Linked DNA regions of Homo sapiens: region 1 is linked to region 2. The links come from fine-mapping of genetic effects on gene expression. Tissue or cell type: whole blood. Region 2 holds a variant in brackets; the other region holds the start of a gene. All regions are shown on one strand. Distances are from middle to middle.

Region 1 (8,103 bases), 120 kb after region 2:
TGAGATAGAAGAGCCAGGGAGGGAGACTACATCACAGGCAACACCACAGTCTGTGAAATTAGTTTCAGTTCTCACTGCTGCACTTCCTGCTGTCGCTGTATCCAGTACCTTCACGGACGCTTAACTGTCCCAAGCCTTGACAGTAGTACAGTTGGCCTTTCACGGCTGAAGTGACCCAGCTCAGTGCCACTGCAAGGTCCACCAGTGGAGCGACTTCCACACTCAAGTAAGAACCAGAGGATGAGAGAGCAAATGGAGGCACCCTGCTGGTTTCCAGGCCAAAAAAAACTAAAAAGGGAAGAAAAAGGACACCATCGCAGACACATCAGCCCAAGAAGAACACAGGTGCCTAACAGGCTCTGCTGCGAAAACCTAAGCCTTGTAAGAGGCACCTTTCCCCAGAACTTGTACTTTTTAAGATGAAAGGTTCTTACACAGAAACACAAACTTACACTCATCCAAGGGACACACAATGGCTGTTGCCTTGAATCCAAGCCAGGGGTGGAGTGAACAGATCTTGACGCGCAAGGACAGTCCACCCAAAGGTTCCTGAGTACTATGGAGCTCGTGAGAAACCTGGGGAAAGAGTCTCTATTTCCCCTAGTTTTGCATTTGTCCCAAAGCTTACATTTAACCAAATGTCCTAATCCTCAACATTCAAGTCTGCAACAAAGCAATGTTTGCTCTCAAAGTTGAAAAGAAGACAAGACATGGGGCTCCCTCCTCTATTGGCTCCTTCTGATCTTTCTCCCACTGCTTGAGCGAACACCCTCTAACAAGACTTCCATAGTGTCCAGACAGAAAGAAGAGGGAAAATAAATCCTGCTTGTCAGCTTCAACTAGGAGATAGCATGTCATTTCAGGAGCTTAATAACTCACTTCATGTATGGCAATTACACAACCTGGGCCCAATGGATCTGCTGACATTCGGGCCTGCAAGTGTGAATTGTCTCTTAATAAATGGGGAACTAGAGGGGAAAGACAACCACGTGTGCCCTCTGGCCTTCCCTCTCTGCTGGCAAGTGGTTCTGCTTCATTCTCCACAGTTCACTTGTTTGGTACTGAAATGAGGAAGAGTATGTACCTCACTATTTTTTTTTAAAGATGCTGTATTTCTCCCAGCCTACAAATGATACCAGTAGTAACTTGGTTGTCAGAAGAGCTAAGGATATGAAAAAAGGGCAGAAGAAAATATTTGAAGCAAAAGCCAAGTTTTTATGTGGGAAATGGACAAGTGTGGAGGGAGTGAAACAATGCTTAGTAGCAATAAACTTGAAAGAAGTTCTAACTTTAAAGAAACCAGGTGAATTATTACCTTTTGGAAGGGGTGTGTGTGTGCATGTAGAGGGAAGGCTGCTGCAGGAATTGCTGCCCCACCAAAAGAGCAAAGGAGGACATCCCCTACTGAGAGATGCAACATTACATAAGAACACAAGTTCAGGCCGGGCACGGTGGCTCACGCCCGTAATCCCAACACTTTGGGAGGCCAAGACGGGCAGATCACCTGAGGTCAGGCGTTCGAGACCAGCCTAGCCAACATGGTAAAACCAAGTCTCTACTAAAAATACAAAAATTAGCCAGGCGTGATGACACGCACCTGTAGTCCCAGCTGCTCAGGAGGCTGAGGCAGAGAATCGTTTGAACCTGGGAGGTGAAGGTTGCAGTGAGCCGAGATCGTGCCACTGCACTCCAGCCCGGGTGACAGAGCGAGACTCCATCTCAAAAAAAATAAAAAATAAAAAAGAACACAAGTTCAATCACCACACCTCAGAGACTGACCAGGAAAACAGACAAAGTGCTGAGGTCTCTTTATCTGCCAGCCTGTATCTGTAACACCTCATTCTACCCTTCTTTCTCTTCTATCTCACCAAATTCTGGGCTTTCAGAAGGCAGGCTTCAGCGAAAGAAGTCAAACTTGCCCATTTGACAGTGGGTTTGCTCTCAGGGTTTAAACACTGAGCACCCTGGCACCTGTCTCTATCTAGGTGTAAGTGAGGATTTGTTTCATATGCCATTTCTACTACAGTATCCAAAAAATTACTCTGCAGACAGGAAGTCCTATCTATCAGGACTCATACCAATACTGTCCTCTGTTTAACTCGCTGGGCAGAAGTTCCTTCAGCAGCAAATGGCCAGCAATGAAAGCTAACAACATAAACCAAAACAAATGGACTTAAAGGCTGTGAGTCCATGAGAGCTGGATTCTGACTTATTCAATGCAGTACCTGCAATACCTAGCACAGTGCCTGGCATACATTCGGTATCACATAACTACTTGGGAGTACTGAATGAAAGAATGAACAAATGAATCTTATGCAAACATACCGTAAGTGTGTACCCAGGAGAAAGAGTTTAGAATGCTCATGATCTGAGAAACAGCCTGAAGCAGCAGTGCTTTCAGAAGGTTTTAGAAAGACTCCAGGTTCAATTTTATCAAAAGGTAAACAAACCAGAAACTAGCAGTATAATCTAGTAGTTCAGACTGTGGGCTCCACCATGAGATACCTATGTGACATGGGCGAGTTATTTAACTTGTTTGGTTTGGGTCTCAACTAGAAGAATGGGGATAATAATATCTACATCAAAAGTCTGTTATTAAATGAGTTCAAAAAAGTAAAGCCCTTAGCACAAAGGTTGGTACTCAGTAAGTCCTCAAGAACCTTTCCATATTATTGCTGCTTAAATACCTTCTTTCCTGAGATGTAGACATACCTCCCCCAACTCCAGGAAAATTTTAATTTCTGGTTGAATATGCTTCTAGCTAAAAACACAAAACCCAGAGAACTCAGAAGTCAGTGCCAAGCACATGTCTCTACTAGCCTCCACTAGATGGTGACAGTTTGGGTGTGGAATTCCCAAAACAGAAAAGGTGTGTGTGCGTAACTCCTATGTATGTTTTTACACCAGAGGAACGAAAACAGCAAGAAATGAATTAACTACTGTGAAGGAAAGACATACTTCCCATCTCTGTAGATCAAAAAAGGGAGTAAATCCCTAGGCCTAATTGAACTGAGTAATCTTACTGCACCTCTGGAAGAGCACACAGGAGCCCAGTTAGCGAGAGCAACAAAGCCCAGCATGTCGCCTGCCACTGAAAGAAAATTCTGTGGGAACAACAGCTTTAGGCCTCCTTGCCCAGACGCCAACTTCCCTTTAACCAGCCCAAGACTTTATTTTGACGCCTCTTTGCTCCTGGGTCTTGCTGTCCCCATAACCACCTCCCCCTCCTGCTCCTAAATTCGTCCAGGGTAACTTTTCTCCACTTCAGCAGCTCCCCAGCCACGACTCCCATGAGGGAGAGTCAGATCCACACTCATAGCTGGGGTCTCAAAACCAAGCGAAAAAAGGAAAGTCTGTATGTACGTGCCTACTTTTTGAAAGAAAATAGCTGGTTTCGGGGAGTTTAGCCTGGTTAATAAGAGAAGTTTTTGAGATTAAAGAGCAGCCGAGGCGCGGGGGCTCCCGAATGCCGCGGTGCGCACAGGCGGGCTCTGAGATTTCCTCAGGAAATCCACCTTCTCTAAGCCAGCCCTGCCCCAGCGCAAGCCCCGCAGCTTTGCTGGGCTGAGGGCAGTAATGACAGTGGCACAGAGGGCCTCTGCCTACCTCCTCTGCACCCATCGGCACGGCGTCTGGCTCTTCCGGTGCTGCCCGGGCAGCGACGCGGGACGGCGCGCCCCGGACCGCGGGTCACCAAGTTCCCGGCCGCAAACCAGCCGCCGGTCCCCCCGGCCGCGCAGCCCCCACTGCTGGCCGGCTGGCCGCGCCACGCCAGCGCGGGGCTCCCAGCGGCGCGGCTCGCGGCCGGGTGACAGCGGGCCGGCGCAGAGAAGCGCGGGGAGCCGCCGAAGCCGGCCCGGGCTCCGGCCAGCGTCACTCCTGGGCGGTGCGCGCTGGTCCCGCGCCCCTGACAGCCGGCCGAGCGCGTCGATGGCACAATGCCGGCCCCGCCGCCCCCGGGCCGCGGTGACAACTCACCCGGGAGCCGGCGGAGACCTCCGGGATGGGGGCGCTCACAGCTTCCACGCCGCCGCTTGCGCGCGCCCGCAGTCTTCTCGGGTCTAGGCGAGGCCCCGCGTGCCCTTGTCTAGCTCGCTCTGGCCGGCGCTGTGGGCAGAGGAAGCGGGCGGGAGGGAGGGAGGAGGTGGGGCGGTCGCCGGCTTCGGAGAATAGAACGCGGCGGTAGCGACGGCTGCAGCGCCCGCGTCACTGACCCAGCTGTACCGCGCGGGCGGGGGAGGCCCCGCGGAGGGGAGGGGGCGGGGAAGGGGCGGGAAAGGGGCAGGGCCAGGCGCGCACGCAACGGCGCCGGCGTCGCGCCGCCGCGACCGCCCCGCCGGGAGGCCCTGCACGCACGCGCCGCCGGCCGGGCCAGGTACCCAAGGGAGAAGCGACGCGGTTGGGGAGGTGGGGGGTCCTTAAAGAGACAGTCCCTCTGCGCTGGAGTGGATGGGGCGGTGGCACCGACTCAGCTGGACTATGCGGCGTTTCCAGTGCGCTCTCCAGTTCGTTTACTATTATTATTATTTGCATGATTGAATTACTATTATTTGCAAAGAATTGTACTGCCCTGAGGTTTACAAGGCTTTTGGCGCATGTTGCCTTGTTAGCTCTTGAATTGCTCGTCTGACCTAGCTCGTCTGAAGCAGGTTATTATCTCCCTGTTAAGCAGTAATCCGAACTGTGGTTCCTAGCCTGCCAACATTAAAGCTGCCCGGGGGGTGGGTGGGGGTGAAAATGCAGATTCGGGGCCCCGAATGACCTCCAGCCATTGTGATTCAGTGGGGTCGGACTTGGGAATCTGTATTTTCACTAGCATTCTGAAGTGAGTGATCCTTCAGCATACTAAAAGCACACAAGGGATCTCAAGGTTGAGAAAACCGCAGTTCAGAGCCAGGACTGGCAGAGCCCGGGCTAGAAGCCTGCCACATTCCTAACTGTATTTCCCCTCTTGAGCCTTGCCTTCTGGGGCTATTTTCTAGCACATACTGAGTGAGCAGTTTGTGCACTGTATGGCTACATCGTTTATTGGTGATCTCTCATGCAGTGTGTCCTCGGTTTATGTGTTTACAGGGCCCGTGGCGCCTTGATGGGGAGGACTCTGGCTTTTTATCTTTGTACCCCAGGGCCTTGCACCGTGTCGGTCTCAGAGGTCCTCCATAAGTGTTAAGGAACTCCTACTTGTAAATCAGTGGTAGAGTCCACATCTGGACCTACAGACTTGTGTCTTTGCTGCAGCTTGGGTCAGGCAGGCCTCTTCTCCCAGATGCTCTTGGACAAAAGGATACACCTTCTCAGGGCCTCTCACCAGGCCTAGTTCTAGTAGGCTTTCGGGAAAAGCACTGTGAATTAACAGGGCATGTCCTTGTGAAGTAGCTTGAACCAAATAAACAGGATGCTCCTCCCCATGCACACAGACCCATCCCCAAAAGAACCCTTCCCTTCTGGGCCCCACAGCAACCTGTGGCTCGTTGCTATAATGCCTTTTTCATAAGTCTATCCTTGTTCTGCCTTCTTTCTTCCTTGCCTTCTTGGGTCCAGACTCATTAGAGAAGATGGGCACCCCTCCCTTCCTGCTCATTTGGGGCCACACTGCCCAGACCACTAGAAGATTGAAAAGCACAATTCAGAACTACCTGGGTCTGCCTCAGAGCACAACCAAATCAGTGTGGGCAGCAGGAACATGCCAGGCAGACCCAAGGCTCAGGGAGGGGACAAGGGGGAAGGAAGCAAGGGAAAGGGATGGAGGAAGAATTGGAGAAGATGAATGGAGGAAGGAGAAAAAGAAAGAAAGGAAAGGGAAGAAAGCAGGCATGGATGGTTCAGGTCAGATCAACTGCCAAAGTAACTGAGCCCCTGGCTGTGCACTGAAGTCAGTTTGGCCATTAAGAGGCTCAGTAACTTCATACAAGAACTGCCACCTTATAAAATCCCTTGTGAGACCCTATGCAGATCTGTCCATCACTACCCAAAAATCCTCAGTCGGGCGCGGTAGCTCACGCCTGTAATCCCAGCACTTTGGGAGGCTAAGGCAGGCAGATCACGAAGTCAGGAGTTTGAGACCAGCCTGGACAACATGGCGAAACCCCTTCTCTACTAAAAATACAAAAATTAGCCAGGCGTGGTGGCACATGCCTGTAATCCTAGCTATTCAGGAGCCTGAGGCAGGAGAATTGCTTGAACTCAGGAAGCAGAGGTTGCAGTGAGCCGAGATCGTGCCATTGCATTCCAGCCTGGGTGACAGAGTGAGACTGTCTCAAAAAAAAAAAATCCTCTCCCAGACCTTCAGGGTCCACAGAATGAACTCAAAGTCATCAGCAAGGACTGTAGTATCCTGTGCTGTCCACAGTCCGGCCCAAATGCTCTCCATCCCTCCACACACCCCACTCCAGCCTCCCCATACCACCTGCTGGTCTCTAACAAGCCATTCCTGTCACAAACCAGGTGCCCATGCTGTTTCCTCAATCTTGAAGGCCTTCTCTACTTACCCTTCAGAATCTTCCCAAGGCTGCTGCTTCTACTTTTCTGTGGCACTTTGGTTGAGCCCCAAAGTGCCACAGAAAAGTATTAAATTAAAATTTTTAAACATTTTAAATATTTAATTATTTATTTATTTATTTTGACGGAGTCTTGCTCTGTCGCCCAGGCTGGAGTGCAGTGGCATGATCTGAGCTCACTGCAACCTCCGCCTCCCGGGTTCAGGGGATTCTCCTGCCTCAGTCTCCCGAGTAGCTGGGTTACAGCTGGGATTAGCTTCCATTTCCTTCTGCTTTGAATTGCCAGAATCAGGGTCAAGTCTCCTCCCTTTATAAATGTCAGCTCACCAGCCTTTCCTGTCTTCTCATCCCCTCCTATCTGAAGTTCCACTGGCCTCTTCAGTACAGCTGACGAAAAGCCCCTGTTACATTCTACGTATAGGCCTTGCTCTTCTCACCCGCAAAATGGAATGGTACTTCCTGGCCTGGGGTGAATATTATCTTTCTGCCATTGAAAAGATCTCACAAGATGAAGGTTAAGAATAATTTAGACTTAGACATTCTCAAGTGGGAGGGATCATAGATTTTTTTAAATAAAATTCTTTAAAATTTTTAAGATTTTTTTTTAATTTAACAGCTTTCTCACACCTGTAACCCCAGCATTTTGGGAAGCTGAGGCAGGCTGATCATTTGAGGCCAGAAGTTCAAGACCAGCCTGGCCAACATGGCAAAACCTCGTCTCTACTAAAAATATAAAAATTAGCCTGGCGTGGTGGTGCACGCCTGTAATCCCAGCTATGTGGGAGGCTAGTCACAAGAATTGCTTGAACCTGGGAGGCAGAGGCTGCAATGAGCTGAGATTGCGCCACTGCACTCCAGCCTGGGCGACAGAGTGAGACTGTGTCTTAAATAAATTAATTAATTAATTAACAGCTTTATTGAGATATTCACATACCAGCAATTCACAGTTTAAATTTGTATTTATTTTGTATAACTTTACAAATTGTACAAATTTGCACATGTACAATTGTACATTTAGAGTGAACAATTCAATGGTTTTTAGTATATTTACAGAGTCGTACAATATTTTAGAACATTTTCATGACCCTAAAAAAAACTCCCATACCCATCAGCAGTCACTACCATTTCCTCCCTCCCTACCACCTTCCCTGCCTCCCTCCCTAGGCAACCAACAATCTACTTTCTGTCTCTATAGATTTGCCTATTCTGAGCACTCTCTATAAATAGAATCATACAAATATGTGGCCTTTATAATTGATTTTTTGTTTCTTCCACCTAACAATCAATTTTAAACCAGAGCTAATTTTTTATTTTCACTTTTCAATTCAGACCCTGCCTTATTCTAAAAGGACTTAAGATGGCTCTTTGAGCTAATATTCCTGGGTCCTTCCAGATTTCCAGCATAAATCTTTTTTTTTTTTTTTTTTTTGACGGAGTCTTGCTCTGTCGCCCAGGCTGGAGTGCAGTGGCATGATCTGAGCTCACTGCAACCTCCGCCTCCCAGGTTCAGGGGATTCTCCTGTCTCAGTCTCCCGAGTAGCTGGGACTATAGGTGCGTACCCCCACACCCAGCTAATTTTTGTATTTTTAGTAGAGACAGGGTTTC
Region 2 (8,104 bases):
TATAGAATGAAACAAATAATAAAATGGCCAGAAAAGGCCAGGCACAATGGCTCATACCCGTAATTCCAGCACTTTGGGAGGCCAAGGTGGGCAGATCACTTGAGGCCAGTAGTTTGAGACCAGTCTGGGCAACATGAGACCCCTTGTCTCTATAAAAAATAGAAAAAAATTAGCCAGGCATGGTGGTGGCACCTGTAGTCCCACCTACTCAGGAGGCTGAGGTGGAAGGATCACTTGAGACCAGGAGGTTGAAACTGCAGTGAGGTATAATTGTTCAACTGCATTCCAGCCTGGGCAACAGAGCAAGACTCTGTCTCAAAAGAAAAAAAAAAAAGACCAGAAAATAAATAGGCAGTGAAGTTTTTCTTGTATTAAACTTTGTATAAACAACCATCCAAGGCTGGGCGCAGTAATCCTAGCACTTTGGGAGGCCAAGACTGGCAGATCACCTGAGGTCAGGAGTTTGAGACCAGCCTGGCCAACATGGTGAAACTCCGTCTCTACTAAAAATACAAAATTAGCTGGGCATGGTGGTGCATGCCTGTAATCCCAGCCACTTGGGAGGCTGAGGCAGGAGAATTGCTTGAACCTAGGAAGTGGAGGTTGCAGTGAGCCAAGATCATGCCATTGCACTCCAGCCTGGGCGACAAGAGCAAAACTCCATCTAAAAAGAAAAAACAACCTTCCAAGCAAAATTCAAAATAAAACATAAAATAAATATTACAATACAGAAATAAATAATGAGTTAAATATTTGTTAATTACATTAATTTTTTTGTTTTGTTTTGTTTTTTTACAAAAGAGGGGAAAACAGCCAGGCCTGGTGGTTCACACCTGTAATCCCAGCACTTTGGGAGGCAAAGTAGGAAAACAAAGTAGGGAGACAAAGGCAGGAAGACTGCTTGAGCCCAGGAGTTTGAGACCAGCCTTGGCAACATGGTGAGACCCCCCATTTCTACAAAAAATACAAAAATTAGCCAGGCATGATGGCATGTGCCTGTAGTCTCAGCTACTCAAGTGGCTGAGACACGAGAATTGCTCGAACCCAGAGGGTGGAGATTGCAGTGAGCCAAGAGCATGCCACTACACTCCAGCCTGGGAGACAGAGCAAGACTCCGTCTCAAATAAATAAATAAATAAAAGATAACTAATAAAAATGAGCTAGTCTGAAGCTTACCTATATTTTATTAAAATTCAGTGGTAATGGCAGCAATTGCTTAGAACTTAGCCTGACAATGGAGTTCTTCCAGGGAGAAGTCCTTTATCACTGCCATTGTTCAGAATTGCCAGCACAAGGTGTTGCTAAAAGGCAGGGTGACTTTTAGTCAGTTTTGTTACTGTTTGTGAATTCCCTGCAGACAGTGCACTCTGATTGTCTACTGACCCACAAGTCATGCAGCTATCAAGGCCTATGGGGATCAGCCCAGGTCTTGCAACTTCAAGGCTAGTGCCTGCTTTGTCCTAGGTCAGCCATGGGGATTGACCTAAGTAGACCCAGCTCAGGTCAAAACCTCATGACTAGAAAGAGGCTGGAGTTGACTTTACCCAGGCATCTGCATCTTCTGCTTGTCCACCTTCACACAGAGGTCATTGCTTCCCCTCCTCTTTGGCAGACTCAACACCTTTTCCTTCTTGTACGTTTCTGCTGCGAGGAAGGCTGGTCTGACTCGCTCCCCAAACCGCTGCCCCTTCCCCTGTGCCCTTGCCCTCTCTCTGCCTCTTTCTCTTTCTGCAGCTCCAGGAGGAACTTCCTACCATCCTTGGTTCCCTTTCTTCTCACATGTTCGTAAAACCAGAATAATGAGGTTCATGAGGAGGATGCAAAGGACTACCATGCCCGGCACATAATAGGGACTCAGCAAATGATTGGTTACCACCCAGGGGATAGCCACTGAGTGCCTACTGTATACCAAGCACTTCTTGGTCCTTCATGCTCCCCTGGCCACCTGCTTTGGCCATCCTCATCCCAGGGTAGAGTGGGGTCAGTTGAGATGCACTGCCCCTTATGGAGGTTTTTCTAGGCAACTAAGGGAGAAAGGGGTTTCCAAGACAGCACTGACAGCCAGCCACTGCCTCTTCTCAGGGGACTGTCAGACCAACTCCTCAAAGGAATCCACCGGTGTAGTAGAAGAGACTAATAAACAGGCACTTATGTTTCCAGTTTTACCATCTAATGTCAATAAAATCCATAAGCATCTGTTGAGACAATACTGGCAGATTTATTAAGCATCTACTATGTGCAAGTCACACTCTAGAGATCACTTTTTCAGACTGGCCCCTTCAGTTCCTTTCCTAAGAGAAACCTGTTGCCCTCCCCTCTTATCTACCCAGTGCCCACAGGGCATTGTGGGCAGATCCAGACTACAGTGAGGTGCTCTGCCTCTCACACCTGTACGCAGGAAGGGGTCAGAGGCCACCTCTCTCTAACCTTCAGGGAGTGTCACCCCCTGTAAATACCCAGCACACGGTTCTCAACTGGACCTGTATGTATGGATCTCCTAAGAGCTGCATGCCTCCATCCAGCTTTCAACTATGAACATTTCCCAACACCCTGAAGAGCTGAAAGAACAGTACAATAAACACGCTCCACTTAGATTCAGCAATTGTTACCCATTTGGCACGTTAGCTTTAATGACTGTGTATGTATGTGTGCGTGCACGTGTGTGTTTGGCTAAACAGTTTAACAGTCAGTCGCATTATCATGACACTTCACCCCTCAACACTTTAGCGTGTGTCTCCCAAATATAAAGACACTCTCCTACATAACCACAACACCATTATCACACGCAAGAAAATTAACAACGATTCTTTAACATCCCATCATATCATATGCATATTCAAATTTCCCCTATTGTCATATTCAAATTTCCCAAAAAATGCCTTCAAGAATTGCTTTTCCCCCTAATGCAGGAGCCAATTGAGTTGCACACACTACATCTGTTTGTTTGTGCCTCTTTAGGTGCTACCTGTTAGCTGCTTCCTTGGAGAACGAGTAGGATCCAAGGGCTTCCAGTCCCGCCCCCATCACACCCCTTCCCTCTCCACACACCCCAGTATGCTTTCTTATTTGTTTTGGCTGCCGTTAATTTCTAAAATATTAAACAGGGCTGGGCACTGTGGCTTATGCCTGTAATCCCAGCACTTTGGGAGCTTGAGGCAGCTGGATCACTCAAGGTCAGGAGTTCAGGACCAGCCTGGCCAACATGGTGAAACGCTGTCTCTACTAAAAATACAAAAATTAGTGGGGCATGGTGGTGCATGCCTGTAATCCCAGCTACTCAGAAGGCTGAGGCAGGAGAATCACTTGAGGTGGAGGTTGCAGTGAGCCAAGATCACACCACTGCACTCCAGCCTGGGCAACAAAGTGAGACTCCATCTCAAAAAATGAAATAAAATAAGCCAGGCATGGTGGTTCATGCCTGTAATCTGAGCACTTTAGGAGG[C/T]TGAGGTGTGCGATCACCTAAAGTCAGGAGTTCAAGACCCGCCTGGCCAACATGGTGAAACCCCGTCTCTACTAAAAATACAAAAATTAGCCAGGCATGGTGGCAGGTTCCTGTAATCTCAGCTACTCAGGAGGCTGAGGTAGGAGAATCACTTGAACCCAGGAGACGGAGGTTGCAGTGAGCCAAGATCGCACCATTGCACTCCAGCCTGGGAGACAGAGCAAGACTCTGTCTCACAAAATAAATAAAAATTAAAATAAATAAATAAATATAAATAAAATAAAATATTAAATGTATTGATATTTAAATGAATGCCAAAATCTCTTTCCAAAAGTAAATAATAAAATCTGGAGATATTCTAAGATTTTGCATTTTCTCTCTAGGTGATCTAGTTCTCAACTAACTTCTGCTACTAAACAGCAATGTGACCTTGGCAAGTCCTTGGTGACATTCAGTAAATACTGGATGGATGGATGGATGGATGGGTGGATGGATGGATGGATGGATGGGTGGATGGATGGATGGATGGATGGATGGATGGATGGATGGATGGGTGGATGGATGGATGGATGGGTGGATGGATGGATAGATGGATGGATGGATGGACCAAAGCATTTGTCTGTTTCATCACTCTGGATTGATTATCTCTGTAAAAACAAGCAAGTCAGGCTGGACGCGGTGGCTCACGCCAGTAATCCCAGCACTTTGGGAGGCCAAGGCGGCCAGATCACGAGGTCGGGAGTTCAAGACCAACCTGGCCAATGTGGTGAAACTCTGTCTCTACTAAAAATACAAAAAATTAGCTGGGCGTGGTGGCGGGCACCTGTAATCCCAGGTACTCGGGAGGCTGAGGCAGAAGAATTGCTTGAACCCAGGAGGCAGAGGTTACGGTGAGCCAAGATTGCACCATGGCACTCCAGCCTGGGCAACAGAGGGAGACTCTGTCTTAAAAAAAAAAAAAAAAGAAAGAAAAAAACAAGCAAGTCAGAGGATCCAGTTCAGATCTCACATTCTGCTGTTATAAGGTTCTGGTCCTGGTACACACACACACACACACACACACACACACACACACACACACACACAGGGTATTGGCTATGGACCTCTCATCTTTCATTGAAAACCCCCCATTCCTTCTTTTTCTTACTGGAATCTTGTGTTCTTGTCCAGGTAGTTGGGTAGACTGAACTCCAAACTGTGTGCTTACTGCACCACCTGGTGAAAGAGTTGCAGTATCTGCAGTTTTTATCTACTCCAGTGAGTGGACGAGGCCACAGATGTCAGAAAGCTCTCCCCGTATTCTGAAACAAGGGCCGTCCTTCACTACCAGATCCCTTTTCAGTGCCTGACCATTTTATGAACCCAAATCTGTTTCTAACCTTCACCAGCATTTTGATTTTAATTTGGAAGAGGACCATGTGCCTGAGCATCAAACCATTCAAATGGAGCAAATAAGAACAGAGCTTGGCATGAAAACGAAAGAAAGACATGAAAAATCCATTTGGCACATGTTTATGATAGGAGCATAGGGCAAGCAACAACTGACAAACTTCAGGGAGAAATAGGTAAGTCAACAATTGTAGTTTGAAATATTACCAGACTCTTCTATGGTCAAGCAGAGGTGTTAAAAATAGGGGCAATATACTTAATAAGATTGAGCTATTAGCTCTATATAGCACTTTATACTTGGGGATAAAGAATATGCATTCTTTTTGAGATATTCAACATTTAAAACAATTTGGTAAGCTATAATGGAAGCCTTTACAAATTCCAAAGGATCCTTATTATTCAGACTATATTATTTGATAATAATGCAATATAATTAGAAATTTATAACAAAAGTCAAATTTTTTAAAATTTCAGGACAGACAGGCCAATGCCTATAAATTTTGGAGGAGGAGAGAAATAATGAATAACTTCAATTTTTTTAAGAAAAAGCTGGGTGATGTAGGGGCGGAAAGGGGATGATTTCTTTTCTCCTCATTATAAAGAATCACAGAAGGCCGGGCGCAGTGGCTCATGCCTGTAATCCCAGCACTTTGGGAGGCTGAGGCGGGTGGATCACCTGAAGATGGGAGTTGGAGACCAGCCTGACCAACATGGAGAAACCTCGTCTCTACTAAAAATACAAAATTAGCCGGGCATGGTGGCGCATGCCTGTAATCCCAGCTACTTGGGAGGCTGAGGCAGGAGAATCACTTGAACCAGGGAGGCGGAGGTTGCAGTGAGCCGAGATCGCGCCATTGCACTCCAGCCTGAGCAACAAGAGTGAAACTCAGTCTCAAAAAAAAAAAAAAAAAAAAAGAATCACAGGAGACACTCCTATAATGAAACACAGAATAACAACAGAAAACACATGCATGGGAGTCTACAAATATGAAAACTCAAGTACAGGGCCAAAGGACTGACACTTAAATACCCTCTTCATTAGGGAGAGGGAAGTGCGGAGTGTAAGAATAAATGATTTTCAGGGGAAATGAATGGACCTGGAAAACAGAAATTAACTTGTAAATAATTCTCTTTGGAATTTGGATGCGCACAAGAGGCAGACATCATCTTGTGAAAAAAGCTGGGCGTAGTGGCTCAAGCCTGTAATCCCAGCACTTTGGGAGGTTGAGGTGAGAGGATTGCGTGAGTCCAGGAGTTCAAGAATAGCCTGGGCAACATGGGGAGACGCCGTCTCCAAGAAATATCAAAAATTAGGCATGGTGGCACACTCTTATATTCCCAGCTACTCAGGAAGCTGAGGCAGGAGGCTCACTTGAGCCTGGGAGGTTGAGGCTGCATGAGCCATGTTTGGCCACTTTACTCCAGCCTGGGTGACAGAGTGAGACCTTGTCTCAAAAAATAAATTAAATAAATAAATGTCTTGGGAAAAAGTTCATCCAGGTGTGGTTACATTCTTCAGTCTTGCTTTTCTGAGATAATGAGATTTCAGGGAGAGGACGGAAGGCAATTGTGGTCCTATTTCGGGGTCTGGTTTCTAGGTAGATAAGAGAACTTCATTAAAAATTTTTTCTTAAACTTTATCAACTCCCAAGCACCTGGAAACTTCAGAAAATAGCCTCATTCTGTGCTTTGAGAGAAACAAAGAATTCAGAAACAGGAGTTGGGGGAAGGTCAAAGAGATCATGAGCCTGCTTCTTTAGTCCAGCATGTCAAAGAACCATTGGGATACCAGTTTCTGAGTCCCAACATTGACTTCCAAAAGAATCAAAATACAATCTTACGGATTTCGTCCAATGGAAAAATAGAAATTGTAGAAAATTGATAACATTTTTAATCCAAAAGAAGATAGGAAAAAGTAAAAAGAAGAAAATAAAGAGCTCATACAAAATAAAATGGTAGATCCAAATGTATTCATAACTATAAGAAAGATAAACATATTTGTCAGAGGCGTTCAAACCAGAATGACTCCATCTTGAATAGGGGCTGGGTAAAATAAGGCTGAGACCTACTGGACTGCATCCCCAGATGGTTAGGCATTCTAAGTCACAGGATGAGACAGGAGGTCACAAGATATAGGTCACAAAAACCACACTGATAAGACAGGATGCAGTAAAGAAGCCAGCTAAACCAGCTACTCAGGAGGCTGAGGCAGGAGAATCGCTTGAACCCGGGAGGCAGAGGTTGCAGTGAGCCGAGATTGGGCCATTGCACTCCAGCCTGGGCAACAAGAGCGAAACTCCATCTCAAAAAAAAAAAAAAGAAGAAGAAGAAGCCGGATAAAACCCACCAAAACCAAGATGATGACGAAGGTGACCTCTGGTCATCCTCATTGCTCATTATACATTAATTATAATGCATTGCCTTGTTAAAAGACACTCCCACTAACACCATGACCATTTACAAATGCGATGGCAATGTCCAGAAGTTACCCTATATGGTGTAAAAGGAAGAGGAACCCTCAGTTCCAGGAATTCCCACCCCTTTCCTGGAAATCTAATGAATAATCCACCCCTTGTTTGGCATATAATCAAGAAATAACTATAAATATACTCAGTCGAGCAGCCCATGCCACTGCTCTGTCTATACAGTAGTCGTTCTTTTATTCCTTTACGTTCTTCATAAACTTGCTTTCACTTTACTCTGTGGACAGGCCCTGAATTCTTTCTTGCGGGAGATCCAAGAATCCTCTCTTGGGGTCTGGATTGGGAGCCAATAACATATTTAACTCAGATATTAAAGGACAGAACGTATCAGATCAGATCACAGTTCTACACTGTCTCAAAAAATAATAATAATTTTTATTTATAAGGTAGGATATTCTATGGACCTCTGTTTCATGGGTCTCTGCCTGTTGCACCGTCTCCACCCCTGGTAATTATGACACCTAGCACATGCTTTAAAACCTTCTCGGTTGCCCACCTACAAGATACTTCAAACCAAGAGAATGGCTCTCGAAGCCCTTCACCATAGAGCCACAGTCTCCAGGTCTGGACCATTTGACAGCACCTTTCCCCCACACCCTCCCTTCCAACCACACCTGGCTCCCAAACTCCCCAACCTCACGGCCCCACTCACAACTGGGCATTGCCCACCTGTTAGCTCTGCCTAGAAGGCCTCTCCCCCTGGCCCATCTCTTCTGCCTGGCAACCAAACTACTATTGGTTCAAGACCCAGCTCCAACAGCACTTGCTCTGTAAAGCACTAGCCAACTGC

What was found. PIP is the estimated chance that this variant, and not a neighbour inherited with it, causes the effect.
Region 1: SUSD6 starts here. The variant in region 2 is fine-mapped to the expression of SUSD6 in whole blood (TOPMed, PIP above 0.99).

Annotation. Positions count from the first base shown.
Region 1 is chr14:69,607,704-69,615,806 of GRCh38, reverse strand. It overlaps SUSD6 (sushi domain containing 6), which reads right to left and starts at 4,211. Exons shown (of 6, transcript NM_014734.4): 1 at 3,979-4,211. RefSeq lists enhancers at 1-7, 278-327 and a silencer at 3,693-4,462.
Region 2 is chr14:69,728,003-69,736,106 of GRCh38, reverse strand. No RefSeq gene overlaps it. Among named protein-coding and RNA genes, the nearest start is that of SRSF5, 35 kb to the left of the region's middle. The variant C/T (reference allele first, on the strand shown) is at 3,443.